Regions from separate parts of the Homo sapiens genome. Here all the other regions are linked to region 6. Evidence: fine-mapped expression QTL. A gene starts in region 6. Each other region holds a variant in brackets. All regions are shown on one strand. Distances are between the middles of the regions.

Region 1 (4,337 bases), 150 kb after region 6:
TGGATGGATGGATAGACGAATGGGATGGATGGATGGGCAGATGATTGGGTGGATGGATGGGTGAGTGAATGAGTGGATGGGTGAGTGAAGAAGTGAATGGATAGAGGGATGGCTGGGTGGATGGGTGGGTATATGGTTGAGTGGGTGGATGAACAGATTAATGGATGAATGGGTGATGGGTGCATGGATGGATGGATGGATGGAATGTTGGGTGATGGATGGGTGGAGTGAATGAGTGGATGAGTGGATGGGTGGATAGATGGACAGGTGGATGAGTGTATGGGTGGGTAGAGAAATGAATGGATAGAGGGATGGAAGGGTGGATGGATGGATAGATGGGTGAATGGATGGGTGGGTGGATGGGTGGGTAGATGGATAGATGGATGGGTGGATGGGTGTGAGGGTGGGTGATGAGTGGGTAGATGGATGGATAGGGTGTTTGGGCGAGTAGGATAGATGACTAGATGGATGAGCAGGTGGGCACATGGCTAACTACGTGGATGGGCACACATCAGTAATTTGCCAGAGATTTGCCTTGGGTACACATACATCCTACATGGTCCCTGCAATCCCAAAGATGCAATTTCCCCACCTGTCAAAGGGATCCCCCTGCCTTCCTATCCAGTGTGCCGTGAGAATCAGAGAAGAGGTTGGTGGGAAGGGGCTCTGAGGATCTCCACGGTGAGCCACCTGACATGCTTCTCACCTCCGCACCTCCCAGCCAGGGAGTTCATGGGGCCTGCCCTTTCCAAGGTTACAGCCAAGGCTGGTTTGTCACACTGGTTTTTCTGGCTGGAATTAAGGCAAATGTTGGTAAGTCACCCCCACCTCATTAGCCTCCTGGGACAGGTGACAGTGGTTTAGAGGCACACAGACCTAGATTCAAATCCCAGCTCTGCCCCTCATAAGCTGTGTGACCTTGAGTGAGTCACTTCCCCTCTCTCAGCTTGTTCTGAAATGGGATGGCCTGCCTGGTCTCTAGTGGCCCTTCAGTCCCTCTTCACCCTCCAAGTCCCCCAATCCCCAGCCCCTTCTTCCCCATCCCTCATCATTCTGGGAGCAGAAGCCACAGGCCTACACTTTGCCTCTCTCAGCCATTCCATCCTCAAAACTGATGGGGACACAGAGGTTCAGAGATGGATGGGTGGATGGATGGACAGGTGGATGAGCTGCAGAGGTTCAGAGAGGTTCTGTCACAAGCCAACATCACACAGCTGGGGACCTCCACGGCAGGGACTTGGGTCCACCCCCTTCCCCGAGTGGGCCAACACTGTGCAAGCCCTGCATGCTTGGCAGCTGGCTGCAGTCATCCCGATGCTCACAGCCCTGCCTTGGAGGAGGGACAATTCTCCCCTCTGGACAGATAGGAAAACTGAGGCTGAGAGAAGCTAAGTCACCTGCCCAGTCACCTGGAGCTGGAACTCTGAGCAGCGAAGGTCGGATATTGCCACAGGGCCATGGGAAGCCAAGCAGGGGTGGGGGCCAGAAGTGTGGGCAGCAGCCCCTATCCACGTCCTGCTGGTCACCTGGCTTGCAGCAGGCTCTCCCAACCTCGTCCCTCACTCCCTACTACCTGGAAGGGGCATTCCCCAGACCACAAATCCAGCTGGATTTGTTCTTATCTAGGAGGAAGGCAAAATTAGCTCTATTCTACACAGGGGTACTGAGACGTAGAGCAGAGAAGAGACTTTCCTGAAGTCACAGTGCAGGGCAGGACCCTGCAAACAGGAGCCAGCCTTCCACATGCCCTGGCCAGAGCTCCCGCCACCTGCAGGGGCCACAGCAGCCGCCATGTGAGCTCACCCCGCCAAGTCCCACAAATGCTTCCCGGGGTTATGGTCACAATCCTGGATGGGGAGGTGGGCTGCAGGGGCAGTGCTTCCCCATGACCACGACTGAGGGCCAACAGGCCGGGCTGGCCCACAGCGTCCCGCAGGGGAGGGCAGGGCCTGGGCTGAGGCTGGGGCTGAAATCCCCCACGGAACAGGGCAAGGCACTTCCCCTTCCTGAGGCTCAGCTTCCTCTGAAAAACGAGGCTGGTGTCGCCTGCCAGGCCTCTCAGAGGGTGTGCCATGAAATTGAAGGTGGTGA[C/T]GAAGCTGCAGTCCGGGCACTGGGCCTCGCCCCAGCGGGTCTCTGGGAGGTGGCAGCTGTCACCCTCCCTGGAGAGGCCTGGCAGCCCCCCAGCTCACTGGGGCCTGAAACTCCCCATCTGCAAAATGAGGAGACCCCACACACCTCGGGAGACTGTCACAAGGGTAAGCCAAGCCCTGGCTTCAGTATCTGTCCCACAGAGACGATGCAGCAGTGTGGGTCCTGCAGGCGTTCACTGTGACCGGCGTTCCTGACACCACGTGGGCACTGAAAGCAGAAACAGGCTTCCCAACAGGACGGAAAGCTGGCTGTGCCCAAGCCTCCCTGTGGCCTGCTGGATGTCCTCAGAAGCCCCCCTGGCCCGCAAGGAGCCACAAAACGCACAAGGGCAGGATCTGCCTCGCTGTTCCATGCTCGGGATGCGCCCGGCCCACAGAGGATGCTCAGAAAGTGGAAGCTGCAGGAACCTTGAGTGACACTGACCCCTCACATTCCGTGGCGTAAAGATGGGGGCTGGACATATGGACCCCAGAAAGAGGCTGCACCAAGCGGCCAGAAAAGGCAAACGTCCACCCTTAAGCCCTGAGGTGAGGCCAGGTCAGAAGGTTCTGGCCCCACAGAGTGGACGACAGTCACACCAAACACCAGGGAATGTTTCTGACGGTATTTCTATCTTGAGAACATCCTTCTTCACAGAGGGTGGGGGCAGGAGGGAGAGAGGGTGTCCTTGGCCCCAGGCCCCTGGGAGAAGCAGAGAACAGAGGCCCTACAGTAGTGCCCTCTGCTGGGGTGGCCATCGCAGACACTGCCCCATCCCTGGGCTCCGTTAAGTCCTAGGAACAGGGGAGACCTGGAGGGTCTTGGGGCCCTTCTAGGACTCCTGGCTCTGCCCCAACTTGCTGTGTGACCTGGAGCAGGGCTCTGTCCCTCTCTGGGTCTCCCTCTTCAAGTCCTCACTGGGCACCGAGGACTTGAAGAGGAAGCATTGGGCGCCTGCCTTCATGGGGCACCCTGCCTCACAGGGCAGACGGTGAGAAGTCAGCAGTCACAACTCGCTGGGCCCTCGGGAGCCCAGGCGAGGTGTCTAACCCAGTGGCAGGAGGGGTGCTTCCTAGAGGAGTATCTGCCAGTGGGGAGGCAGCAGCGAGCAGCAGGGGAGAGAACCCCGCCTGAGACCAACCATAGCACAGTGACACAGCTAGGAGCACCAGAGTCCTGCAGTCTTGGTGCAGATTCCAGCTTCACTCTCCAGGCACTAGGCCTTGGGCAAGACCCACCCTGACTGTGTGCAAACCAGGGGGCTGGCCCAGCTACTCCACAGAAGCCCTGCCAGCCCTCCATTCCAGGATCTAAACTATTCGGGGTTTGTGGGGAAGGTGTGAAGAGATGGGCACAGCCTTGCCACCATCATATCAGGGAAGCTCAGCGTGTGCAGGCACAGAGGCCGAGGCATCACCCCAGGAGGCCTCGGATGTCATATTAATGAGCCTAGACTTGATCCCAAAGGCAATGGGGAGCCCAAGGGCCATAAGAGAGCTTGAAACTATAAGAGTTCTGGGGCAACAAGGCATGAATTCAAATCCTGTCTCCATCCCTTCCTGTGTGGCCTTGGGCAAGCCACATAACCTCTCTGAACCGCAGTTTTCTCACCTATAAAATGGAACTAATCATAGCACCTATCTCATGTGGTTGCAATGGGGTTTCCATGAGTGAATACATGGAGACTGGCCAGCTGGGAACTCCCTGTCCTCCCACCCTCTCCCTTCATCACAGCTATGAGCCTCTGCCTCACCCTGCAGAGAGTCACAGGCCCCTTTAGGGCCTCAGCTGGACCCCACTCCAAGCAAGAAGGAATGATGGGCAGGAACCCCAGCGGGAGGCACAGGTCAGCAAAGGCACCCTGGCTTCTGATTTTCATACAGCTGTAAATTTTCCAGCTTCAACTTAATTTGAGTCTCAGACATGTCCTGAGCAGCCAGCATGTGCACAGGAGAGCAAGGACACAAGGTAAGGACACAAGAAGCATCCTGGGACCAGAAAGACCACCAAAGGAAAGGCTGGGAAATTTGCCAACATAAAAATATGTATGATGTTGTCAAAACCAATCGTAAGTAAAATAAAAGAAAAATAATGTGTTTGTTTAAATCGGACCCATGTGCTTAATATATAAAGAGTTCTTATGAATCAATAAGAAAAAAGGACACAGTAGGAATGAGCAGAGAGCTAGGGTTGGGCTTCCAATGTCT
Region 2 (4,337 bases), 560 kb before region 6:
GGTCTGATAATTGTGAGTAGCAAAATCTAATGGTTGTGGGACACAAACTCTGTTAACATTGCTAACTGAGGTATGCATTCAACTATTTTTGTATATACTTAATAGTTTTTGATGCTTCCTGGTGTACCTCTTGCTGTGGATTTCAAGCCAGCGTCAAAGATCTTGTTTGTATATACATATATTGAGGAGATATAGCAAAGTAAATAGTTTCTACAGGAATCCATGTCATTGATTTCACACCCTGATAGGCAGCAGTTGTTCCAGGATCTCTGCTAAAACTCCTCATATCTAATAGCACTGCAAATAAGAGAATGGACTTTACTCATGCCAAAGTCAAACAGAATCCTCTAAAAATTTAAGGGAATAATGGTTTTAATGCAAATATTTCTTTTTTGATTTCTAAAATATAGCTTTAGAAATTTACTTGAAAAAATCTATATGGTCTACTCTTGATACCTTGAAGAAAAATCTGTCCTGAATTCTGGTACTTTTTTTTCTCTAGACAAATGAAAAAGGATTTTAGAAGACTACTTTACCAGAACTCTTAACATCTAGCATCTTTCAGTTGTATGTGATTTGGGGAAAGAGATAAGGTATTAGATACATTTCTGCCAATGACAGTAGACAAAATTAAAATAACATGGACAAGGACAATTTCATTGCAAATATCTGTTCAGCTCAAAGCAATATAAATCTATTTTATACAAAGTTATACAGCAAATATATTCAATAGCTTCGATCTTGATGACAATTACTTCATAAAGGAAAAATATTTCAAACATTTATGCAATGATATATTGTCAACATGCAACATGCCCATGCTAAATATGTACTTCATTATTTTCATTGTCAACAATAATTCTTTAAATCTCCTCTTGTTCTAGCTGCCACTTAATTTGTCAGAATTTTCTAGAAAGGTGTTAGAGATCAAGAATGTTTTTTAAAATGCTGACAATAGAGGAAAAGGACATTATTAGGAAAGAACAGAGAGACAGTGGTAATAACCAATTTTAACATTTTTTCAGAATACAAAAGTAAAAATAAAAAAAGATAGTAGATTCATGTTATGACATGTAAAAAAAAGTATGCTTAAGAAGTGTTTCTATTTTTTGTTTTGTCTATCTACTGGCAACCTCCTTTATCCGCTGTAAAATGCTGCTAGGAAAAGATGCTGTAGAGAACTTACAGATATTTGTATAATTTTATATCTCATTTTAAAAAGTATGCCAATGACCAATAGATGTATGCTAATTAAGGTAATCTGCATGGATCAAATTGAGCACCCCAGATTTCAAAAGATATTCAAAATAATTTACCTATGTGTATCTTGATTCTGGTAAAGGCTGTCTGTAGACTTGGTGGTCAGTGAGTAATTACATCATAGTAAAAATCATGTGGCTTCAATTAAATAAAATATTATTTCCTTAGGAATATAACAGTATGCCTCAAATATGTGTGAAATATATTTCTACTCTGATATGTAAAAACCCAATTTTCTAATATATTGTGTACAAGAAGCATGACGGTTTGATGTTGCAAACCATAGTTGGGTGGTCTGTTAGATTTTATAAGAAACGTAACTGCTCTGTAGGATCATAGAGGAATGTGTGGGAATCAGATAAGAGTGATGAAGTGAATATATTGGCAACCTGGAGGTTTGAAAAAGACACCTGAGCAATTCTTGTAATTTTTTATATTTCCACACTATACAGCAAAGGCAGAACTAAGCACAGAAAAAAAATGGTAATAAGGCAAAAAGGAGAAAACACGATATCCTTTCATTGTCTAACATGATTTTTTGCATGATCCATGGAATAAAAATATAAAAAACTTTCATAAGCAATATAATCTAATTTGCTTATAAACAAAAAAAGCTGTCTTGGTCATTAATATATTTAATCTAAAATAATTTTCATTTAGGGAATTTTATAGATGCTTTGAAGTATCAAAATATATCTGTACATAATTATAGC[A/G]CTGATTATACGAGTTGCAGAGGTAAATTCTGCTTGAGCAAACATAAGAAAAGAGCATATGTTTTCTTTTTTTTTTTGCTTCATAGACATTTTTTCTTTTTAGAATAAAGCTCTCTTCAACCAGAAAAATATATTTCAGTATCGTTTTTAATTTAAAAATAAGTCATGTGGTCTTTCATGATTAGTCCCTGATTTGAAAGCTTAGTCATTTGGGAAAAAATAAATATTGTTCGATCAACACAGTATTTTCTTCTTTAAACCTTTTATTCACGTCTTTGAGGCTTTAAAAATTTCGCATCTTTAATATTTTTTTAAATTAATGCCCCTTTTAACACCTAGAACTCATTGCCTAGTGAATTCCTTAATGTAGTCTCCAATGCATAATACATAGCTAAGCTTCCTTTGGACAGGTAATACCTCCTTTTTGATTGATTAAAAGGAAGTAATAAAGTATTAAGTAAAACACTAATTGAAATATAAATATTTTAGATTATTAGATAACCATCATAAAAACTATTCATACAGGAAATTGAAACCATTTCATTGCACGTATTTTACTAATTACATAATTTGTAATGCATGTTCTACCCTGTGAAGAATAAAAATACTATCTTTCCAGAGTATCAAGTATGTCATTGAGAATTTTATTGTTAAACATTAGCAAAGACAAATAACAGCTTGTGCCAATGCAAATTGCCTGGAAGTTTGTTGATACAGATGAAGATGGACAGATGGTTTTCTGTAAGCAGTATCATCATTGGTTTTCTACTTAACAGAAATGAAGGACCTCATATTTATGATGACATATTAGAAATCATGAGAATGAAGTTGCTCATTTTTCTTCTATTACTTTGCTCTATCAAGTAGAGACACTACTAGGAGAGTGCCTAGTGAGTACTTACACAGAGTGTAAAGTTATCCATTCTGTTTAGGTGATCTTGCCCATAATCATGGTCCAATATAGTATACCACTCTTGCAGTAAAGAGTGGTTAGCCATCGATTTTAAAAGTTCTAAGTCTATATCCTTATCGGAAGATGCAGACAGAAGAGGGAATTGTTTGAAGTTTATGAGTGTAGAGTAGGGAGAAGTAGCACATGCTTGCATCTTACTTAGAGTTGTCTGAGTGGTCATAAAATCAAACCACCTGTTTAGAAATAAGAAGTACTTAGTGGTAACAGAAACCAGTAAGACAGAACACATCTTCAATGACCTCAGAAGAAGATGCATAAAGAGCTATCACAAAAGGTTAAAACTAAAGGAGAGAAGAGGGATCAGTGAAACAGGAAGATGTGTACAGTGATAGTTCTGAGAAAGGTTCTTTTACCCTAAAATGGCTTTTGTTTTTATTTTTTTGAGACGGAGTCTGGCTCTGTCGCCCAGGCTGGACTGCAAGCTCTGCCTCCCGGGTTCATGCCATTCTCCTGACTCAGCCTCCCGAGTAGCTGGGACAACAGGCGCCCGCCACTATGCCAGGCTAATTTTTTGTATTTTTAGTAGGGACGGAGTTTCACCGTGTTAGCCAGGATGGTCTTGATATCCTGACCTGGTGATCCGCCCGCCTTGGCCTCCCAAACTGCTGGGATTACAGGCGTGAGCCACCGCGCCCAGCCCCTAAAATGGCTTTTAAGTGTTTTCTTGAATGAAAACACCAGATATATTCAACAGCAATACTAACACAAAAAGACTTGGCAGCTGGGTGCAGTGGCACACGCCTGTAATCCCAGCACTTTGGGAGGCTGAGGCAGATGGATTCATTGAGGTCAGGAGTTCAAGATTAGCCTGACCAACATAGTGAAACACCATCTCTACTAAAAATACAAAATTAGCTGGGCATGATGGCGGTTGCCTGTAATCCCAGCTACTCAGGGAGCTGAGGTGGCATAATTGCTTGAACCCGGGAGGCAGAGGTTACGGTTAGCCGAGATCACGCCACTGCACTCAAGTCTGGGTGACAGAGCAAGATTCCGTCTCAAAAGAACAAAACAAAACAAAACAAAAAGACTTGGCAAACAAACCATTGTCATTCTTTGGCTAACACTGTTTTAACCATTTCCAATTTAAGGTCCAAGTGTCCAGACCCCCACGTCTGTAAGAGAACATTGCTAGTCACAAACGTTCAGGAAAACAATCCTAGATTGTACTTCCTAATAACTAATTAGAAGTGTCTCTGCTGCAATTTGATTGAATCATCTCCAAGGAAAAACACTGTTGTAAAAAATATATAAATAAATATATATAATTATGTATATATGGGCATAATTTTAAATACATTTCATTACATTGATGTGCTCTCAAAAATACTAAACATGCAAACTAAACTCCTGTTGCTTAGACAATACTATAGATACATGTAGTCAATAAC
Region 3 (4,337 bases), 8.0 kb after region 6:
AAAAGAACACCCGAGGCTGGGTAATTTATGAAGAAAAGAGATTTATTTGGCTTATGATTCTGCAGGCTGTACCAGCCTGGCACCACCATCTGTTTCTGGTGAGGACCCTAGGAAGCCTCCAGTCATGGTGGAAGGGGAAGTGGAGCAAGGAAGAAAGGAGGTGGGGTGCCACGTGCCTTCCAACAACCAGCTCTCATGTTTCATAGAGCAGGAACTCACTACCACTGGGACAGCACCAAGCCATTCCTGAAGGATCTGCCCTCAAAGACCCAAACACCTCTCACTAGGCCCCGCTTTCAACATTGGGAATCAAATTTCTTTCTTCTTTCTTTCTTTCTTTTTTTTTTGAGATGGTATTTCGCTCTGTCACCCAGGCTGGAGTGCAGTGGCATGATCTCAGCTCACTGCAAGCTCTGCCTCCCAGGTTCATGCCATTCTTCTGCCTCAGCCTCCCGAGTAGCTGGGACTACAGGTGCCCACCACCACGCCGGGCTAATTTTTTGTATTTTTAGTAGAGACGGGGTTTCACTGTGTTAACCAGGATGGTCTCGATCTCCTGACCTTGTGATCTGCCTGCCCCGGCCTCCCAAAGTGCTGGGATTACAGGCTTGCACCACCACACCCATCCTAGGCCCCATTTTCAACATTGGGAATCAAATTTCTTTCTTCTGTTTTGTTTTGTTTTGTTTTGTTTTGTTTTGTTTTGTTTTGTTTTGTTTTGTTAAAGAGATAATCTGACTCTGTCACCCAGGGTGGAGTGAAGTAGCGCAGTTATAGCTCACTATAGAAGCCATGGCTGAGCTGAGCCGTAGCTTACTGTGGCATCCAACTCCTGGAGCTCCAGAGGTCCTCCCACCTCGGCCTCCTGAGTAGCTGGGATAACAGGCTCAATCCACCATGCCCAACTAAGTTTTTAATTTTTTGTAGAGACAGGGTCTCACTAGGAGGTCAAATTTCAACATGAGATCTGGAGGGGACAAATATTCAAACTGTATCAATGTCAACAGGTTTTTTTTTCCTCATAAAAGAGTATCTATGTGTTAGGAACTTTAGATGTTCAAAAAGTGGTGGGGGGAAGAAATATATAATAAGGGACACACACTTTATAATTTCCTCACATTTTAAATTACTCCAATAACTAATACATAGATGGATTTATGGGTCTGGAATTTTTTCAGTGAGACATTTGTTTATAATTAAAATATGGATTTTATCTCCTTATTCCTTTTTAATTCAGTCCGAGGCCTGAGCCACCATCAAAACCTTCCTACATTGAAGCTGGGGTTTTTCCCTGAAAATGTTGCTTGTTAGGAAAAAAGGAGGCAGTTGCCTTGAGCCAGCTGACCTTGGCCGCCATGCCGCTCTCACATAGGAGTGTTATTCAGTGGGAAGTTTTGCTCTCTGCATCGCACCGCAGCCCCTCAGCCATGAACTCAGCAAACACTGTCCCATTTTGCCCCCAGTAACAAGCACAGGGGCACCATCACAGGCTAGTACCCAGTGTGAACTAAGTCTTGGGAACTTACTGGAATTGTTGGAAGATATGCCCCTTTTTAGTAATGCACATGGCTGTAAATATTAGGTACAATTTGATTTCAGACTCAATTCATTATGTGTTTTGGCTCAGCTGTGGCCTGCATATGGTGTTGCTGATATAGAAATGAAAATGCTGGTGAGCCACAGAAAGAAAAATCCTGTGTTTTCTGAAAGCTTCAAACACCTTTGGCCTTGTTCCTTAATCACCTGGGAGGAAGAGAACCTACAAAAACTGGAAACGCAGTGGCCAGCAACCAGCCCTTGAGAGGCTTGCTGAGCTGTGAGGGTCTGGAGGAGGAAGAAGCTCTACATTGTTTCTGCAGCCCCCGTGCAAAACAATGTTGAATTCCAGCGTGATATTGAAATGAATGTATTTTATTTTAATGTTAAATCTTAAATTTTTTATTAAGTCCTTTGTTCACAAATGGAAACAACAAAATGACAAATTATTTAAAATTTTCAGATTTTATAACCTTCCTGTCCTCTAGCAAAAAAAAAAAAGAAAGAAAGAAAGAAATTTGATTCCCAATGTTGAAAGGGGGGCCTAGTGAGAGGTGTTTGGGTCTTGGGGACAGATCCTTCAGGAATGGCTTGGTGCTGTCCTGGTGGTAGTGAGTGAGTTCTTGCTCTATGGAACATGAGAGCTGGTTGTTGTGAAAGCGCGTGGCACCCCACCTCCTTTCTTCTTTGCTCCACTTCCCCTT[C/T]CACCATGACTGGAGGCAGCCTGAGCTTCGGAAAGGAGGCAGTCCTTTAAGACAGCCGTGTCCAATATAAACAGAATATGAGCTATGCCTGCCTGTAGTTTTAAATTTTCTACTAGCCAGGTTAAGGAAACTAAAGAGAAACAGATGGAATTGATTTGTAATAATATAATTTATTTGACCCGATGTATCCAAAATATCATTTTAATGTGTGATCAGTATAAAAATACTAATGAAACGTTTTACATTTCTTTGTCCTAAATCTTTAAAACTCACTCCATATTTTACACTTCTAGCATATCTCAGTTCAAAGCAGCCAGATTCCAGATGTTCTGAGGGCTCTGACTCCCTGAACTCAGGAAGGTGAAGGGCCTGAACCCCACTTCTCTGCCAGGAGGGAGGGAGCTCCCCCTCCCTACCCACATCTCTTCTCAGTCCCAAAGGAAGAGAGAGTGCCCTGAGAGAGCAGGGGCTGCCAGCAGGAGGTGGCCACAGGTAGGCCACTGCTGCCCATCTGCTGCTTGGTGGGGCCATTCTCCCCTCCAGAGATCAGAGGACAGCGGGGTCCCAGGAGGTGGGTCCTGTCCACAGCCTTGACCTCCAGAGTTTAGATTTGGAGGGAATAGATTCCAGACAAATGCCTTACCTTGCTATTTGGCCTTTGCCCTAGTGGTCAGGCTGTCATCTATTTCCTCCTGTGTTGTGTGATACTGTGTGAGTTTTAAGCACATACATGTCTACATGCATTTCTTTATAATTCAAGGGACCCAACTTCTAATAAGGGGAAAAGGAATTCAGTACCTAGACGGTCCCTATAGTGTGCCAGCTAACTTGTAGTCAGCATGTTGTTAATCCTGGCATCCTGTCAGCTCTGGGTGTGTTAGTTAGCTGTTACTGTGTAATGAGCCATCCCAAAACTTATTTAGCTCATGATTGAGCAAGTCAGCAATTTATGGCAGGCTCCTGCCATAAATTAATTGCTATACCTATAAAACCTGCCGTACCTTTATAAGGTATAGCAATCTTCATGTGTGTGTATGGGAGAAGGGGGTCAGCTGCTGGTGACCAGACAGCTCTGCTGTTGAGAGTGAGTTGGCTTGTGGACTGGGCAACTTTGGTTCTCTTCCGCAAAGTGTTTCATCCTCTAGCAGGCTAACTTGGGCTTGTTGTCACGGAGATAGCACGGTTCTGAAAGAAAAGGAAGAAGCATTCAAGACCTTTTGAGACTGGGCCCAAAACTGCCAGCTGGATCCAAGTCTTGGGAAACAGATTCTAACTCTGGATGGGAGCAGCTGTAAAAGCGCATTGCAAAGGGTGTAGACACAGGGAAGGATGAAGAAACACGTATAAAGCACTTCACATGTTTGGAAATTCTTTTCATCCCATTTTGGTATTTGTAGGCTATTACTGGTCTTCAACACAGACTAAATCAAAATGCTGTGCCCAAAACAACCTCTTACTCTGAAAGCAAGTGATGTAAAGATAGATCTGCTGAAAAGACATTTCCTCCTGCTGCAATTTAGTCAAGCAGCTGAGCACGTCTTGAGCCGTCCTTTGATTTTAACAGGGCAGAGCTGTTTTCTAAGACTGCCCACCACCCCTCCCCGCAAAGCTGAGATGCTGCGATGAGGCAAATCCCCGCAGCACACAAGGAAATCAGGCACAGCTAAGGTTCTCACCCCTGATGCACCTTACAATCACCTGGGTGGCAGGGGGCTTTTAAAATTCCCAAAACCCAAGTTGCAACAGACCAGTGAAATCAGAATCCCTGGGGTAGGATCCAGACATCCTTGCTGTTTAAAGCTCTCCAACTGGTTACAATGTGTGGCCAGAATTGAGAACCACAGCATGAAACCAACGTCTTTTGATGAACTAGTAGCAAATGGTTTCTTAAACGAATGTGAAGTCTTTGCTGCCGAGCTGTAGCCTTTCAGTCTTAATTGCGTTATTTACATTACTTACTTACTTACTATCTTTTGCAGGACTTGACCTCTGCTCCTCGTTTTGTTTCTGATTCAACTCAATTTCACAAGTGCTGAGTGCATATGATGTGCAGAGCACCGTGCTAGTTATTGTGGCCTTGGTTTGGGGAGGACTTTG
Region 4 (4,337 bases), 510 kb before region 6:
CGAGACCATCCTGGCTAACACGGTGAAACCCCATCTTTACCATAATACAAAAAATTAGCTGGGCGTGGTTGCAGGCGCCTGTAGTCCCAGCTACTCAGGAGTCTGAGGCAGGAGAATGGCGTGAACCCAGAAGGAGGAGCTTGTGGTGAGTGGAGATCACGCCACTGCACTCCAGCTTGAGCGACAGAGTGAGATTCCATCTCAAAAATAAAATATAAAAAGAAAAAGAATTTGTGTCTTGTTTCCTCATTAATGTTGGTTGAAAGCATGTTTGCACTTGTCTTTGGCTTGTGTTTTCTTAACATCGATTGGCATATTAAAAGTCCCTCTGAGCTTACCTTCTCTAAAAAAATGTAAGAAAAAAGGCCTGTGGGAAGGACTATGAGGCAGAGGGGCTGGTGTGAGCACATGCTGGGCAGGAGGAAAGAGGTAATGACCAGGTCCAGGGAAATCCCCAAATCCAGCAGGTCAGGGAGCCAAATGAAAGCCTTTCATCCTGTATTGGCCACCTAACCCCATCGACACTCAAAGTGAGCATTCTCTCTTAGAGATACTCATTGTCCTGTTTTTTCTGTAACCTTGCAAAGGAATCTGATTTCTCCCATTAGCCTTTCACAGGACAAAAATTTCACATTAGAATGCTATTCTTTAGAAGGCATCTTCTTAGATTAGGCTGCAAGGAGATTGAGGAAGTTACTATCAGTCACTTATACCCCACAGGGACATTAATTCACCAGAGCTTTGGTGGGGGAGTAGAGGAGCTCATTACAAGCAGGTCTGGATGCTGCACAGAGTGTAAAGGGGGCAGAAGGATCCAGGACACCTAGGCCTGGAGACAGCGCCAATGCTGGGAGGTACCGTTATTATCCCCATTTTACAGAGGAGGAAACAGACACAGGCAGGTAATGTGATCAAGACCACGCTGCCCCGCAGTACAGGAGCCAGGATCTAAACCCAGGCAGCCTGCCTTGCCATCAGAGCTCTCACCCATAACCTTGTGCTGCTATTAAGCAGGATTGCCCTGTGGCCAGGGGCACAGCTTCTGGGTTCACGTTCCAGCTTCTCTACCATTTCCAGCTGTGTGACCTTGGGCAAGTTAGTTGTCTGTGCTCAGTGTCCTCTGCATAGTGGGTGTAGCAATACCTGCCTCATGCAGTCCCTTAAGTGAGTTAACAGCTGTAACATGCTTAGAATGATGTCATGCCCATCATCACCATCCACTACATATGGGCCATCATGCCTGAATCCCAGATGGACACATATCCTTGAAGGGTCTAAAATCTAGGATCCTGAAATGCCTGGCAGTGGGATCCTGAAATCCTCTGGCAGCATTCTAACATATTTTGGCTGCAGAGTTGTACCCTGTTTCCCGGGGCTAGAAGGTGTGGGATCAGCTGTTTACTCAGTTCAGCCCCAAAGTAGGCAAAGAAGGTTTTGTCACAGGCTTGCCTGGGGCCCAGCCCCTGTAACCTCCCCTTGTTCCTCCCTTGCATGCTCCCTCACCCATGTTCACACATGTACTCCAGGCCTTCTGGGCCCCAAGGGAAGGAGAGAGGGTGGGGAGTGGGTTCACTGGTCCACCGAAGCATGCTGCCTTCAGCCCTGCTGCACTGGTGGGTCCAGGGAATGGGCCTGGAGCTGAAGGGGTCTTGCCCTCCCTTTAACTTTAAGCCTTGATTTGCAGTGATCCAAGAGCTTCATCTCTTCCTGTGAGCCTGTCTGGATGTTTATGTTGGATGGCACAGGCCCCTTCTGGCAGGGGTGCACAGGCCAGGGCCTGGCTGGCAGCCATAGCAGCTGAGGAGACTTTGGCAGACGAGAAGACCTTCTGCTTCAGCTTCAATGTATGAGTCTTCTCCTGGCTCTCAGTACATTCCTCCTGAGCCATGATGGGCCCCAGTTCAATGAAACCTTCTG[T/C]GGCAGCATCATGGTATCCAGGGGTATAATCTGGAGCATGTGCCAGTGCTACCCCAAGGTATGTGGTTGTAGGGCTGAATAGAGCCAGAAGGGCTGGATCTTGTACCTCTCTTCCATGTACCAGCCCCATCCTTCAATCATCTTGTTATTTTCATTTTGAATCCCTGTTTTATTCTGTCTTCTGAGCACCTATCCATTCATTTATCCATTCATCCATCTATTCATCCATCCATTCATCCCAGCATCAATCTATCAATCCATGCATCCATCCATTTATTTGTCTAACCACCCACCCATCTATCTGTCTATCATTTAGCATAAGGATTGATCAGAAGCCTCCTGGTTCTGGAGCCATAGACCAGACACCATGGGGAGACATGATGAAAAACAACATATGATTTGTGTGCTTGAAACAGAAGCTAATGAGTGCTTACCACCTGCCTGGCAGTCCTGCATTCAGGGTGCAGTTCTCCCCTCATCCTGAGCTTTTTGGTACCTTCTGTAGTTTCATTTTGTACTAGAGAATGCTGAGCCTCATAAAGTGGGGTCACACAGCTGCGTAGTGGAGTTTGGATTGGAGCTCAGATGTGTGTGATTTCGGCATCACCCTCTGCCTTGAGTCCGCCACTCCAGGGTCTCAGAGCCGCTGAGCATTCTGGGGTTGGTCAGCTCTAACCTTGGTGGCATGCATTGAGCAACTCTCCATATTTTGGAGTCTTAATGTATTCCTAGCCTTAGTGATGGCAAGGACCCTGCTTTGAGAGACCTGGGTTCTAGTTCCAGTCCTGTCCCAAATTTTCTGCGTGATCTTTGTCTTTCTGACACAAGCACCAATTTTCACAGCCTCATAGGGGTATTACAGAGGTCAGAGAAGATAAGAGATATACGAATATTAGTAGACTGTAGAGTGTTTTGTTTAGGTGAAGGGCTGTCAGGTCCTGACAACCCTCTGGAATGAACATGTCAGAAGTTGTAAACCTTCAATGCCCAGAGAGGTGGAGTGCCTCTTCCAAGGTCACATAGCTAGTCAGAGACAGACCTAGGGGAAAAAAATGAGAGAAACACAGATTCTCACTTGGGCTCTGTCTCTAACTGCCTGGGAGACTCCTCAAGCCCCTTCCCTCTCTAGGCCTCAGTTTCCTTGTTTTTACAATATGTGAGACAGGATGAGGGGATGGATGGGGAGGATATCTGGGGGCCCTGCTAGAACTCACCTCTAGGGCCCAGGCTTGGGAATCCCCAGAACCCCCATATTGTTCTTTACACCTGGGTGGCTGTGCTCAAGGGCTCAGGGAGGGTGAACTCTTGCGGCCCTGGACTCCCTAGCCCTTCCCCTTCTGTGGGCCCACCGTGGGCTGTCAGCGTGTTAGGTGCTGGAATGGTCTGAGCTGGTTTGTAGTCATTTCCGAGGCAGTTTTATGGCAACCTCACCTCTGTCCGTGCCATGTCCTGAGCAGAGGTCCTGGGGAGAAGTCCTGGAGGCCAGAGCCACCCATGTCACCACTAGCCACGGTAGTCCTCTTTCCTGTGAGGAGGCTGCACCCTGGGAGATGGCATTGGGTGGAATGGAGCATCAGTCCTGACCTCCCCGTTAAGCAGAGGTGGCTCTGGGACTGTGGGCAGAGATACTGGAGTGGCAGTGGGAAGCGAAGTGGAGGAGGAAATATTCCTGGCTACTAATGAGTCACAGTTGATAGACTCATGGCTTCATGTGCTTTGGAGGCAGTGTGGTGGGGTGCAGATGGCTTATGTTTTGGTGACCTACAGGCTTACATTCAAATAGCTGTTACCTCATGTTCCACGTCTGTGACCTTGGCAGGGGGAGCTCCTCAACCCCGAACCTTGCACAGCTGAGTGGGAGAAACCAGAGGGGTCTTTTGTTGTCAGGGACCTGGCATCATGCCTGGCACAGAGCACTTGCAAAATCTTCATTCTCAAGATTGGCATTTGTAGCTCTGGGGGATACACAGAGAGGTCTGTGTATGTATGGGCAGGTACATGTGGATAGGTGTGGGTCGGTTTGTGTGTGTGGGAGTGCATGTTTCAGGGACACAGGCTATCAAAGTCAGCACAAGGTGACTCCAATAAGGGAAGGGAAGAAAGCGTATGGTAAACCAGGAAGACACTCTAGAGATGAGGCTTCCTGCACCCCACATGATCTGTTGGTGCCTGTGCCATTGTAGCCTTCAGTGCTCATGCTTGTCCTACCCTCAGGGTCCTCCCCTGTCCTCCCCTGGATCTCAGTGCCTGGCTTGTGGAAAGCTTCAATAAATGGGGAAACATAAATATAAAGGAATATAACTAGCTAATTAGGGTAATTAAGTGAGGAGTAGCCATTTCCAACATGCATTAAGCTGTCCCTGATTTTTAGGGGCTGGAGGTCTAGTGAGAGAGACAATTTGCAGCATGATGGGGAGGAA
Region 5 (4,337 bases), 190 kb before region 6:
GAGGCTCTTGTATGAAAACAAGCCTCAAGTGGACTCTGCAGCAGAATGCCAGCCTTGCATACACTTCCAGACTCAGTGAACGGCATCCAAGAAATGTCATGGCTTGAATGGGCAGGGACCCCCTGGGACTCCCTTGGCCCAGCCCCCGGCCTCAGCTGCTCCATGACTTAGAAGCGGGGAAGCTTTGAGATGGCCTCCTCAGGGTGCGCTGGGGAGGTCTCTTTGCCATGTTCAGAATTCGCCCTGGCCTGGGCTCCCCTGGAGCTCCCTTGAGCTTCTCTGAACCCCTAGGTGACAGGGGAAGAAACCCTCAGATGGGTGATCACGGCCCTTCCCGCCCCCTGGTCCCAGGCATTGATGGGGCTGTGGCATTTGCTTTTCCTTCCTCCAGGGGTCCTGGCTCCACTTAGCTTCCCACTCCTCCTGCCCCCTCCAGAGCAGCTGCGTCCCTGCGATCAATATGGAGCTGATCAATCTATCTGTCCCTCTGCTTGGCTGAGGAAGCCAGCAATGATGGCCACCTTGGGACCCCATGAGTGCTCCTGAGACTGTGGCATGTATCACCTCCTCACTGCACAGGTGGGGAAATTGAGGCCTCCAGAGGGTCAGGGCTTCCCAAAGCTCCCAGCAAGTCTGTGGGGTGGGAAGGGCTGGAACCTGCTCAGCTGGCTTCTCTTTCAGACATCACGTCTGTGATGCATATGGTCCTGGGTGCCCTGTGTCCCCGTGGCCATGCCTCAGGGGTCCTGAAGTGCTAAACCATGAATTCATCAAATGTTGACTGAGTGTCTGCTCTGGGTTGGGCAGGCCCTGTGCATCCAGGGATGCCTAAGACAAGGACCCTGCCCTCACGACGGAGCTGATGTTCTCATCGGGAGCGGGACAACACTGAGATGTCAGGTGGTAGTGAGCACTGTAAAGAAAAATAAACCAGCGAAATGGGAAGGAAAAGGTCAGGGAAGACCTCCTGGAGGAGACATTTGAGCAGATGCCTGAAGACAGTGCGGGATGAGTCACAAGATGCCAGCAGGAAGAGCTTTCCAGGCAGGGAGCAGCAGTGCAAATGCCCTGTGGTCGGCATGTGCTTGGCACTTGAGAAAGTTGCTTCAGAGCTGGCAGAGCTCACAGGCCTGGCCCCTACTGTAGGCACTCAGCCTGGCCTCCATGGATTCATTCCACATACTTTAAACATTCCAACTAGGGGCCAGCATTTTCAAATCTAAGATTTGTTTCCATAAAAAGTCCTGATTTCCAGCCTTTCTTAAGAAATTGAAACCTAGAGTCAGGAGTGTCCACCCCTTTGGCCTGCCTTATCCACCCTCTTGCTTGAGTCCTGCAAGGGCTTGTGGCCCTGGCAAGAGGATGTGGTTGGGGCACAGATGGCACATGCGTTATCACAGGTTTCTGCTTCTTTATATTCTGTCTGGAGAAAAACACTGGTGATTGAAGCACGGTTGCCACCCAACGAGGCAGAACTGAAAGGTCACTGAACGGTCTTGACCACATTCTCCTGGTTGTCACCAGTTGCTGGCAGTTTGCAGCAATCTCTCCACCTTTGGAAAGTCGGGGGTGGGTGGGCGTCCACCGCCCCTTGCTGTAGCTGTGCCACCCCTAACTGAAATCTCGGGCAGGTCACTTCGTCACTTGGTCAAGGTCCTCCATGTTTCTGTGCCTCAGTTTCCTTGTCTGGAGAATGGGGGAAATGAACACTGGGCTGTCTAGCTTAGGACAGAAACAAGAGCAGTCAGGGGCTTTGATGCTTTAGGGCTAAACATCTTACTCATTTTCAAGTTATGGTGAGAGAGAGAATGTTTGGGGACGTGCCAGCCCTCAGATTTCAGCCAAACCCAAGCTGGCATTCAGAGCCTCTGAGGTCTCG[G/T]CATGGACACACCCAGTGTCCATCCCTTCCTTCTCCTTCCCATCTGGGGCCCCAGCCACCTGGCTTTATCTCCCACTCTGCACCCACTCACTGTGCGACTCATGCTTTTGAGCACCTGTTGTAGACCAGGCCCCTGCTAGGATGAGTGGCAGGCTGTGGTTTGAGCAGGCCCCTGGGGACGGGCCTGCTGCAGGCCTAGCTGTGCTCCCATCCTAGCCTGTCAGGTGGGCCCCATCCCACCCCCATGGGCCCCTGCTCTGACCCTCAGGTCATTTCCCAGTATCCTTTGCCCTCAGGCTTCTGCGCTTGGTGGTGGTGGGGGAGCGGGGCACGTCTCTCCTTATGTCTCTCCTCGGATGGCCTCCTAGCAGCGGCCACCTGCCCCCACCAGCCCCATGGCTCCAGACACCCCTGCCGAGGCTCCAGCTCCCTTCGCATGAACACAGCCCCTGGGACTGGTGACCCTGTTGCTTTCTTCCCTGCCTCCAGCCTGGGATGGCGGCTTCCTGCTGATTTCAATCCTGGATTCCTCCTCATCCCGTTTAGCTCTCAGAGCCTTTATCACAGTGTGACCAGCTCCCTAGACGCAATTCTCTCTGTTGGAGAGAACTGGAGGGCTTCTTTTTCCTGGCTGGATCCTGCCTGATTCCGTGGCCATGTCCTGACTGCACAGATCAGAGTGGTCTGGCTGTGGGCCTCTTTCCTTGCCTGAATCATGAGCTTCCTGAGGACGAGGACTGATGGGCTTCTTCCACAGTAATAGACTCAACTTCGAGGAGGCCTCAGTGATGTCACACCTCATGATGTCAGCTGATACCACTTCTGCAGCAGGCACAGCCAGGGCCAGTCAGGCAGCTCCAGGGCATGAAGTGTCTGTCCCTACCCCCAGCCCTGAGCATCACCTAGTGGCAGGGGAGGCCAAGAGGGAGACCCCTGGCCTGCAGTCTCCAGGGCAGAGAATCAGCCCAGTCAGCAGAGCCTGCTATGATCTCTCTCTTGCCCTCTCAGTACTGGCTGAGGAGGGGCCTGGACCCCAGACCCAGGACTCCTCTTCATTCTTGTTCCCACAGGCTTGGGGCCCTCACAGTCGCTCTGGGCTGACTTACTCCCAAGTCCAGCCCGTTCCTAGGACCAGGTGTTTGGGGCTCAGAGGGTTTGTTTTATGGCCTTGACTCTCATCAGGGCCTGTGGCAGAGCCCAGCTTCCCCTGCTGAAGCCTTTTACACAGCTGGACACAGACCCAGCTACACAAGGGTGCACAGGGACACAGACACAACTACACACAGATATGTACATGTGCGCACAGACACACATGGGTATGCACAACACAGACACACAGGGACACATACAGTCACACATGAGTACACACAGACGCGGACACGTGCACACATGGACACACATGATCACATACAGACACACAGGGACATACAATCACACATCAGTACACACAGACACACATGGACACACAGGCACACACATACAGACACATCTGCATAGGCACACACACATATACATGGACACACAAATATAGATAATAGAGACATACATATCTATACCTGCATAGATACAGAGACACAGACATGCAAATACAGATACGCCCAGACACACACACGCAGCCTGGGGCTGTGATGGGGTAATGCCGGGTGCCTGGTGTCCTGGCCCAGCCTGGTGGGGCGGCAGGCCTGAGGGTGAGTCCCTTCACCCCATTAGCAATGCATTTTCAGAAATACAGAGGCAGCAAGAAGAGGCCAAAGCCTTGGCCAGCATCCGGGTGGTTTCAGGTGACATCTGTCATGCGGAGAAACACGCCTCACGGTTCTCCTCCACCTCCCCAATGGCTGCCCTCCAGCTCACAGGCCCTCCCAGACGCCTTTTCCTTTTCGCACCATCAGTGTCTCCGCCTTTCCACACCATCAGTATCTCCGGGTTGAGGCTGTTGAGGCTGCAGGCCCCCGGGCACGTGCCAGATGCGGACGCTGTGGGCATTTCCGCTCAGCTGCAAGAACAGCGCCACTGAGGCATCCAGAGGCTGCAACCTCCACCAGCAACAGTCACGTCCGTGGTGTTTGTGCTTCACTACAAGTCCCTGGCCAGCAGGCTGGCAGGTTTCATTTTCATTTTCGTGGGCACTGTGCACGGCCCCATGTTCACAGGAATCCAGGCACGGAGTGGACGTCCCCTCCCTGCCGCATCCCCAGCCTCTCGGTTCTCTCCAGAGGTCAGCGCTGGATTGTTTGTGTGTCCTGCTGGAGATTCCCGTACACACAGCATTGCTATGACATCTTTTTTGTGGTTCTTTTTTGTTTTGTTGGTTTTTTGGTTTTGGTTTTTTTGAGACAGAGTCTCACTTTGATACCCAGGCTGGAGTGCAGTGGTGCCATCACAGCTCACTGCAGCCTCAAACTCCAGGGCTCAAGGGATCCTCCCGACTCAGCCTCCTAAGTTGCTAGGACTACAA
Region 6 (4,337 bases):
TCTTGATATGTATTCCAGAAGTTTTTGTTGTTTTCTGGTTCTTGTCAGCCCATGTTGCCGGAAATAAAATTCTTTCAACTTGTTCTTTAACAATTTACAGTATCCATATATTCCTTCCTGTTCTAGAGGCAATAGAGTGAGAACACACACTTAGGAGCCAAGCTGGCCTGAGATTAAGATCCACCAGCAATGTGACCTCAGTAGCCTATTTACATTCTGAGTCTCATAGGGTTGGTGTGATAATTAAATGAGGTAATATATGAACAACACTTAAAACAGAGACTGACACTGGTAAGGATGGACTTTCTTGTTATTACTATCTGAAAAAGTTGAAAAATTATGAGCCTGAGTAACAGTTATACATCTTACCCAATGGTTCACTAACCTCTGGTCCCTGGCTACCCCGGCCCCCTCTACCATGCAGTCACCCACACCCATGCTTATACTGATGGAGAGGAGTCAACTATGAGCTATTCACTGGATGACAAGCCCAGCTACTGTCACAGGTGCACCCCAAGTCCAGGACAGAATGCTAGCAGATAGCTGCTGGTCTGAGAAATGTCATCATCATATAAGCCTGAGTGAAAACACAGCCCCTTTACTACTAAGAAATCTGAAAACAAACAAACATAAACAAACATAATTTTAAATTTTGTATTTTTTATGATGTCATTTGTCCCAACAGCCATCTGACATCAATAGCCCTGATTACTAAAAGTCTCAACGTTATAGAAATGTTCTCCTCCTTTTTGAAAACCATGTTCATTTTTCCCCCACGATACAGCGCTATCTGCAAAGCCTTGAACTGATAACATAGCTCAGGGGCTAACTCTTGTCTTAGCAGAGTAGCAGCTGAAAAAAGAAGACAATTCTTAACAAACAGGGAGATCAGGAATGCTCACTTCTAAAAACATTATTTATTCAGGGCAAGTGGTATTTGTGACGTGCGAATGAAGCTTAAACTTCAGCTTTAATTTATAAGAATTAGGAAATGCAGATTAAATCTCTGATGCCATATTGTGAATTCAGTAAAGGTTAACTAATCTACGACGCAAAGACAAACGTTAGCTATCCTACGCTTATTATTCTGGAAATTTAATGAAAATTAAACAAGAAGACTCACAGAGTATAAGAATTGTCCCCCCGCCTTAACAGTGTTGTTTTCAGCCTCTGTTGCCTGAAACATTGCAGAATAATTCAGATTTTTTTAACCCCACCTTTTTATTGAGTAAAACCAAAGTACTAAACTAATAAATGTGAAAAAGGATGTTGGGTTTAAAAAGAAAAAGCCTCAAGACATCGAGCCTCTTAGATATTTTAAAAGTGAAGACTGAGAAGGAACGCACTGTTGCTAAACAGAATTATAGGATTATGGTCAATTTATAATCTTTTCAATATGGGATTTGAATGTTCTGATATTAGATACCGTGTACGTGCTTTATTTATATAGTACCTCCCGAGAAGAAAAAAACCAGTATTGGTTTATACAGTATTTGGCATGCTATTCACGTATGCAGTGATGTATACGATGTCAGAGCTAGAAAATAGCTTAGATACGATTTGGATTCAGCGCTGGGCGGCTCCGCCCCCGCCAAGCCCCGCCCCGTCCCCTCAACCCCGCCCGGCTCCGCCTCGTCCCCTCCGCCCCGCCCCGTCCCCTCCGCCCCGCCCCGTCTCCTCCGCCCCGCCCCGACCCCGGGGCATGCGCTGTGCGCCCGGCCGGCGTGGCTGGCTGTTTGAGGACTGCGCGCGGAGCTCCGTGGCGGGTGTCTGAAGTCGTGAGTTTACTGCTTGTAAGGAACATAGCGATCACTGGGAACCTGGAAGTAGAGACTCCTTTCTGCCATCCATCCGTCCCTCGGGCTGCTGCGAATCCCCCCGCCGGCCTCCAGGACCCCGGGCTGACTGAACGCCCGCACCGGTCCCGCCGCCCCAGGGCCCGCTACGCGCCCGGCATAATGGGAGAAAAATCACGACGGAAAGGCCCAGCCCCTCGCCATGCAGACGGGAAGCTTGGCCGCACGTGTGATCACCCTTACGCCCCTTGGAGTTTCACCCCCTCTTCGCGGGCTCCAACAGCCTGGGTCAGGCCTCCTTGTCCTGTGTGGGCCTCTCGGCTGCAAGAACACAGTCCCGAGCCCCGGCGAGCCCGCGCGCCTCCCACCCGCCGTGCACAGGCTGCACTTTACGCCCCAGCACTGCGCCTGCGGGACCATCTGGATCGCTTTTCCATTCTGATGACGTCCTGTACTTCGTGGCTGCAGGCTCCTCAAGCCCCAGGTCTGTGCAGAGACGAGCAAAGCAGCAGAATATCCGTGCCACAGCTTTCTGGAGCACCCATTTTACTACCAGATTTGGAAGGAACGAAGTTAAGTAATTTCCAAGGTAAGTAATTAAAATTTTACGATGAAAAGGCTAGAAACTCTTCTGCTGGTAATAACTGTCAGACATATCTGTGCCTGAAATGTCAGACTTTTTCTGAGAAAAAAACTGAAAACTTGTTTCCCATTATTTTAAATAGGAAAAATTATAGGGCACAACAAGTCAATAGAAAAAAACCTACCAATTTCCTAACTCACAGTGTGGCAGTAGGTTTAAGTTGCACATAAGTTAGGATGTAAAATGCTTAAATGTTGCCACTTGGTCACCCACATTTGATATGGTTGTTAACATGCATTTGCCTTGGATGCAGTAGCTGTGCGACCAGCAACATCACACGTGAACCTCCCCTTTGTCAACACACCAAAGCTTTTTGAAGTGACTGTCATGATCCTGATGGTCTACCAGTTGTTTCTGGAAGGAACATGTGGTTTTTTCCAGCAAACTATTTAGTTTAAAATGTTGTAATTTTTGAAAGCTCAAACATTATGTCTACAACCATCAGCCAAAAAATTTGAGACAGGTTCTTGCTCTTTTGCCCAAACTGCACCACGAAAGGGGTTCCAGCGATCCACCTGCTTCAGCCTCCCCAGTAGCTGAGACCACAGGTTTGTGCCACCATGCCTGTTAATTTCTAAATTTTTTGTAGAAACTACATCTCCCCACATTGCCCAGGCTGGCCTCGAACTTCTAGACTCAAGCAATTTTCCTGCCTTGGCCTCCCAAAGTGCTGGAATCACAGGCGTGAGTCACCAACCGCACTCAGCCTGAAAAATGTTTTGTGAGATAAATAGCTGCTATACAGTTTAGATATTAAAAACTAAGATGTGTTCTTCCAGGAAAGTTATACTTTCAGATATATTCTGTGTCACATCCTGTATGATGAAATAGATGGCAAAAAAAAAAAAAATCCCATTTAATTTAAAGATGGAAGCTGTAACTTCAAGTAAATTTGGAGCTGAGGAGTCCTTTCGGGCTATGACCCCAGAATTCTGGGGTTCTCTGTACTGATTTTTTGCTAGTGTCCACACACAAGCATTCCTTAATGCTGTGCATTAAACAAATAGACCTTTTTTAACCCCAGGTTTCTCTCCATTTACCATTCTGTTTCTCTGCTCCATGCAACTTCCTCACCTCATGTCCTCTCTTGCACCCACTCCTTTCCAGCTTTCCTCCAAGGTACTTTGCTGAAACGACTTTTATCTCAGTCATTTAGCTGCATTTGACACAGACGATACAATTGAGGAGTTCCACCCTTTCTTCTGGATTTTAGGGACCTTCCCTCCTGGATTCCCTCTCACCTTTATCCTCATCCTCCTGCTCCTCCTCCACCAGATCTCTAGTGATCCTCTCAGAATGATCCCACACAGTCTCATAGCTTTAAATACCATCCATCTGTTGATAACCACTAGGCTTGGGGCCTCTTCCCTGAGGGGAGCACCAAGAGTCATCCCTGACTCTTTTCCCTTCTCCCCCAACCCCCATGCAACCACACAGCAAGTCCTGTGGCTCTTGAGTGCAACCAGCATCCTGATTCACCATCTCCATTTCCACAACCAGTTTCAGTCACCTTCCTCTCCTACTGGGCTACTGCCAAGAATCCTCCAACCTCCCTGCATCTTGTCTTGCCCTGCTACAGTCCAGCCTCCACTCAAGCATCCAGAGTGATCTCTTGAAAATGTTAAAACATGATATAGGCATACCCCCACCCCTGTGTAAACCCTGCCACTATCTACTCATTGCAGTAGAATAAAAGCTCAGACAACCTGGTGCCTGCCTCTTCAGCCTCATCTCCTGCCCTTGCTTGTTCTTGCTATGTGGGTCAGATTTTCTGGTCTCCAGAGCTGAAAACAATCTTAACTGACAGACGTTAGATCATAGACTTTATCTACAGCATAAGGCATGGAAGGAAAAGTCTGAGAGAATGAAGGGCCAGAAAAGCTTGTTTAAAAAAAAAA
Region 7 (4,337 bases), 890 kb before region 6:
TTTATACCTGGGGCAATGCAACAACAAATGTGCCAGGTATGTGGACACACACCTAGAGGAAGAGTGCTGTGCACCCTCAAAGCCTGGTGAGGATCAGCAAAGCAGCCCCTCTGGGAAGCTTGTTGGAAAGGCCAACTCTCAAGACCCTCCCCACCCCTGATGCACCAGAACCTTCAGTCTGACATAGCTCTGGGTGACTCCCCTGCTCCCGAGGTCTGGGATGAGCTGCCTGAAGCACTGGCTCTCAATCTGCCTGATTGTCAGCACCACTTGGAGAGCTGGAGAAGTTCTAAAAAGACAGATCTCTGGGTGCTTCCATCCCTGGGATTGTGATTCAGTAAGTAAGGGGTGAAATACAATAATTTATATCTATGTTTTTAAAGCTCCCCCAGTGTTCTGGATGCTTAGCCAGCCTGGGGACCCTCTCTCTGCTCTTCGGGTATCTTACAGGTAAGAAAGATGTCATTGTAAGCTTTTATCCTTGGAAACACATTCATTCCAAACATATCGAAAGAACGTACTAGGCTGTGTTTGGTGGCTTATGCCTGTAATCCCAGAGCTTTGGGAGGCCCAGGTGGGCAGATCGCTTGAGCCTAGGAGTTTGAGACCAGCCTTGACCTCCTTGACTTCTGGGAAGTTTATGAGGGACCTGGACACTGTCAGAGTGGTTTTTTGTTTCCCTTTGTGTACAGTTCTGAGTTCATTATTTATGTATTAGGGTTTGGAATAGGATCATATAAATATTTCGTATCTTAAAATAGCTGTGAGAGTGTCACTAATCTGCCCCTGAGCTGAATATCCACCCCCCACCACCATTTTAATCCTCCAGTCATGTGAGGGAGGATGGGAGTCTGTGTGAACGTCTTTCTCACTTGTGTTCAAAGATCATATCTGCCTGTCTCATCTGTCAAGAGTGTAGAGTTTGTTGTGATGGTGTATTCAAAATAGACGAAACGTGTGGTCATTGTACTTAGCAAACAGCTTTTCACATCAGGATGTTTCTGCCCCCGGCTCAGGGCTGGTCCAACTGTGTGACGAATGTGGCTCAGTGCAGGTGTCTGGTCTGCCACCCTCAGTCCCACAGCTGCAGTGTTAGAAAAACAGTGCTGTGGGCACCCAGCGTCGGTGACATGAGGAATATGGAATAATGAATACTTAATTCACATGTGCTTATAGAAAAAACTTTAAACAATAAAAATAACCAATTGTTAGATTTACATCTTTTTCTGTCACTATATATAAAAGGAATCAAGAATTTTCATGCAGCTTCCGGGTATTCTTGAGACTGGTATATCGTTTCTTTTTGAAAAGTGCATTATTGCATAACAACACCTAAATATATTTTTATATTTTTATATATTTGTAAGCATATTTTAGCTCAAAAATAGCAAAAGTATACATAGCTTATAGCACAGTTTGGGAAATGCTGATGTATATGGTAATAATGCATTGTTTGAGATGATTTAAAATTATATTAGGATATTAGGAGCCCAATATAGTGATCCAAATTGAGATCCTCTTGTCTAGTATCCTTTAAAATGACAAAACATCAAATCTAGAAAATAGATAAGAAGTGAATTTTAAGATAAAGGTACAACAGATTTTCTATTTTTACAAAAATCATTAGTGATTTTCAAAAATATATTCTAGAATTCAAGCTGTTAATTTAAAAAGTGCATATTTAATAATAAAGTGAACAAAACTGGCTGTTAGAAAAAACACTTCATCTTGCTGTCTCCAAATCTTGCAGCTTTTCGAAGTTTCAGAATTTTGTAAAATATTTTGAATAGCCCAGACTTTCTGAAAATGGGTGTAGCCTTTCAAAGTATTAGAATTGAGAAGCTTTTAAATGCTAATCTTATTTTATAAAGTGTTGACTTTTCACTGTAGACTAATAGCAAACAGTTTGTAAAGAAACGTAAATAAAAAATGTAAATAAATAAAATAGGCTTATTAGTTTTCAAAAAAATTTATTTAAAAGGAAGGGGCAATGTAGATTGGAGTAAGGAAGTATGTGAAAATGTATTTTGTGAAAGAAATCAACTCACGCACACACACACAAATGC[A/G]CACACACACACACACACACACACACGCCTCAAAAGCAAAACTCCAACAATGCAGCTGTTGTTCCTTTGCAGCAATATTTATCTCACCTTGAGTGAGTGAGGACCATGCTGCTTGGAAGCGTAATAACTTAAACACCTTGCCTATGTCTAGTGATTAAAAACTAAGCTCTACTCAGCTCATGTAATGCCCCTGACCTCCACCAGAGAGAAATTCTAGGTTATTCCTTGTGGGCAAATGTGTCCATGGATCAGCGGATCAGGGACTGCTGAATCAGATGTGTGTCCCTCTCTACATGTCATGGTTTGTAGAGATCAAAATTTTCCCTGAAAACACACAGGTTTGTGAAGCCAGGTGGTCAGCCAGTTTCTGAGGCCTAATAGGGAGGCCAGAATCCTGCTCCCAGGACAGGGCTGGGTTGGGGATGTCTGTGGTGATATCATCTCCAGCCATAAGCTCCAGGGCAATGCTGTCTGCGATGAGGGTCTGGGGCATCCTGAGCTCCTGGAGAAAGCTGGATGCAGTTAAGAGCTCTATGAAGATTGTATGTGGTGGCAACGCTGTTGGGGTACCCCATGGGTAGCCTAGAGAAGAAGTACTGTGTCCCACTGCAGATGAAGGTGAATTAAGGCAGAGAGGCTATTGAAATAGGCACTGAACAGAACATGATAGCCGAATCTATAATAGCAAAATATTTACCAGTTGTAGTCCCAGGTACTCAGGAGGCTGAGGTGGAAGCATCACTTGAGCCTGAGAGGTGGAGGCTGCAGTGAGCCGTGATCATGCCACTGCACTTCAGCCTGGGAGACAGAGAAACACCCAAACTCAAAAAAAAATTACTACATATTTATACATACAAAATTGCACACACACTCACACACATACATACACACAGACTCACATAAAAGTAAAATAAATACATTGTATCCATCACCTACACCACTACATTTGAAGCCGTCTTCATGGTTGGCCCTTTGGAAATGTAACCATTTGCCTCCCCATCTAGGACAATCATTCATCTGAAGCTTTACAAAACATATTATTTCCCTGACTTTTATACTTTTATTACATAATAACATCTCTAAATAATATATTGTTTATCTAAATAATATAGTGTTTAACTTTGTAAGTTTTTACACTTTCTATAAATGTGCTATGTATCTCTGTAACTTGCATTACTCATTCCACATTGTATTTTCGAGAGCCTTCTATGTTTTAGCTTCTTGTTCAATTCTATGTATTGCTTACTAATTAGCCTTTAAATTGAATATACTAAGACCTACCCGAGAAGGAATTCTTGTGGGATAATGAGTATACAGTGCTTAAAGCAGTGCCCCATTCATTATAGGTATTCAATATTATATATGTAATACTATATACAATATTTTAATACTGAGTAATTATATACATATTATGGTTGCTCCTTTCTTTGTGGATGTACATTATTTCATCAACTGCACTATGAACTAATAGTTTTCTTTTGGGGGAGGGGGCAGGGTCTGGCACTGTTGCCCAGGTTGAAGTACAGGGATGCAATCATGGCTCACTGCAGCCTGGACCTCCCGGGCTCAAGGATCCTCCCACCCCAGCCTCCTGAGTAGCTGTGTCAAACGGCAGTGCCACCACTCCCAGCTAATTTTTAAATTTTTTGTAGAGATGGGGTTTCACCATGTTGCCCAGGCTGGTCTCTAACTCCTAGCTCAAGCAATCTGCCCACCTCAATCTCCCAAAGTGCTGGGATTACCTGTGTGAGCCAGTATGCCTGGCAAGAGTTTTCAAACTACGGTAAAATTCAAGTTACAGAGACCTTTGGGAAATGCCTCATTCTAGGTATTTGAAGCTTCCAGATAGCTAAGATTAAAAATTCTTATGTACTAACTTGTTTCTAAGTGTATGCTTTTACATTTAAACAAACTAAAAACATGAGCTTTATTAAAAAAATTCAGCCATTTCCAAATTCTCTTCCAAACTTGTTTAGAAACATACATGACAGAGCTTTGATCAGATTGTGCAAACTGCTGTGTGTTCTGTTTTTAAAATATTACTTAACTTGTACACTTCCACACATTGGCATTGCACATCATTGCCATTTCCAATACGTTCCTGTGCTTCACCAATTTCCATAGCTGTCAGAGGGAGAGCAGCCCAGGTGACAGGAAATGAAGTTGTCTGGCTCCGAGTCCTTACCAGGAGGACTTCTGAGATCCAGAGTCTTTGCATGGGGCAGATGACATATTCTGAGAGGACATTCCTTTTTTCCACTGTAGCTGCTA

What was found.
Region 1: its variant is fine-mapped to the expression of LINC02693 in whole blood (TOPMed, PIP above 0.99).
Region 2: its variant is fine-mapped to the expression of LINC02693 in whole blood (TOPMed, PIP above 0.99). The same link has a PIP of 0.9 or more in blood mononuclear cells and monocytes.
Region 3: its variant is fine-mapped to the expression of LINC02693 in whole blood (INTERVAL, PIP above 0.99). The same link has a PIP of 0.9 or more in monocytes.
Region 4: its variant is fine-mapped to the expression of LINC02693 in whole blood (TOPMed, PIP above 0.99).
Region 5: its variant is fine-mapped to the expression of LINC02693 in pancreas (GTEx, PIP 0.93).
Region 7: its variant is fine-mapped to the expression of LINC02693 in whole blood (INTERVAL, PIP above 0.99).

Annotation. Positions count from the first base shown.
Region 1 is chr17:21,403,226-21,407,562 of GRCh38, reverse strand. All of the region lies in intron 1 of KCNJ12 (potassium inwardly rectifying channel subfamily J member 12), which reads right to left. Among named protein-coding and RNA genes, the nearest start is that of KCNJ12, 29 kb to the right of the region's middle. RefSeq lists enhancers at 1,917-2,417, 2,825-3,324. The variant C/T (reference allele first, on the strand shown) is at 2,092.
Region 2 is chr17:22,104,687-22,109,023 of GRCh38, reverse strand. It overlaps the pseudogene UBBP4. Among named protein-coding and RNA genes, the nearest start is that of LINC02002, 160 kb to the left of the region's middle. The variant A/G (reference allele first, on the strand shown) is at 1,974.
Region 3 is chr17:21,541,073-21,545,409 of GRCh38, reverse strand. The region is part of intron 1 of LINC02693 (long intergenic non-protein coding RNA 2693); the gene reads left to right. Among named protein-coding and RNA genes, the nearest start is that of LINC02693, 8.4 kb to the left of the region's middle. The variant C/T (reference allele first, on the strand shown) is at 2,241.
Region 4 is chr17:22,054,228-22,058,564 of GRCh38, reverse strand. No RefSeq gene overlaps it. Among named protein-coding and RNA genes, the nearest start is that of LINC02002, 210 kb to the left of the region's middle. The variant T/C (reference allele first, on the strand shown) is at 1,918.
Region 5 is chr17:21,736,767-21,741,103 of GRCh38, reverse strand. No RefSeq gene overlaps it. Among named protein-coding and RNA genes, the nearest start is that of KCNJ18, 46 kb to the right of the region's middle. The variant G/T (reference allele first, on the strand shown) is at 1,880.
Region 6 is chr17:21,549,044-21,553,380 of GRCh38, reverse strand. LINC02693 (long intergenic non-protein coding RNA 2693) reads left to right here and starts at 1,703. Exons shown (of 2, transcript NR_160801.1): 1 at 1,703-2,385. RefSeq lists a silencer at 1,640-1,809.
Region 7 is chr17:22,438,668-22,443,004 of GRCh38, reverse strand. LOC124903954 (a long non-coding RNA gene) reads right to left here and starts at 2,864. Exons shown (of 2, transcript XR_007065672.1): 1 at 2,764-2,864; 2 at 1,954-2,672. The variant A/G (reference allele first, on the strand shown) is at 2,067.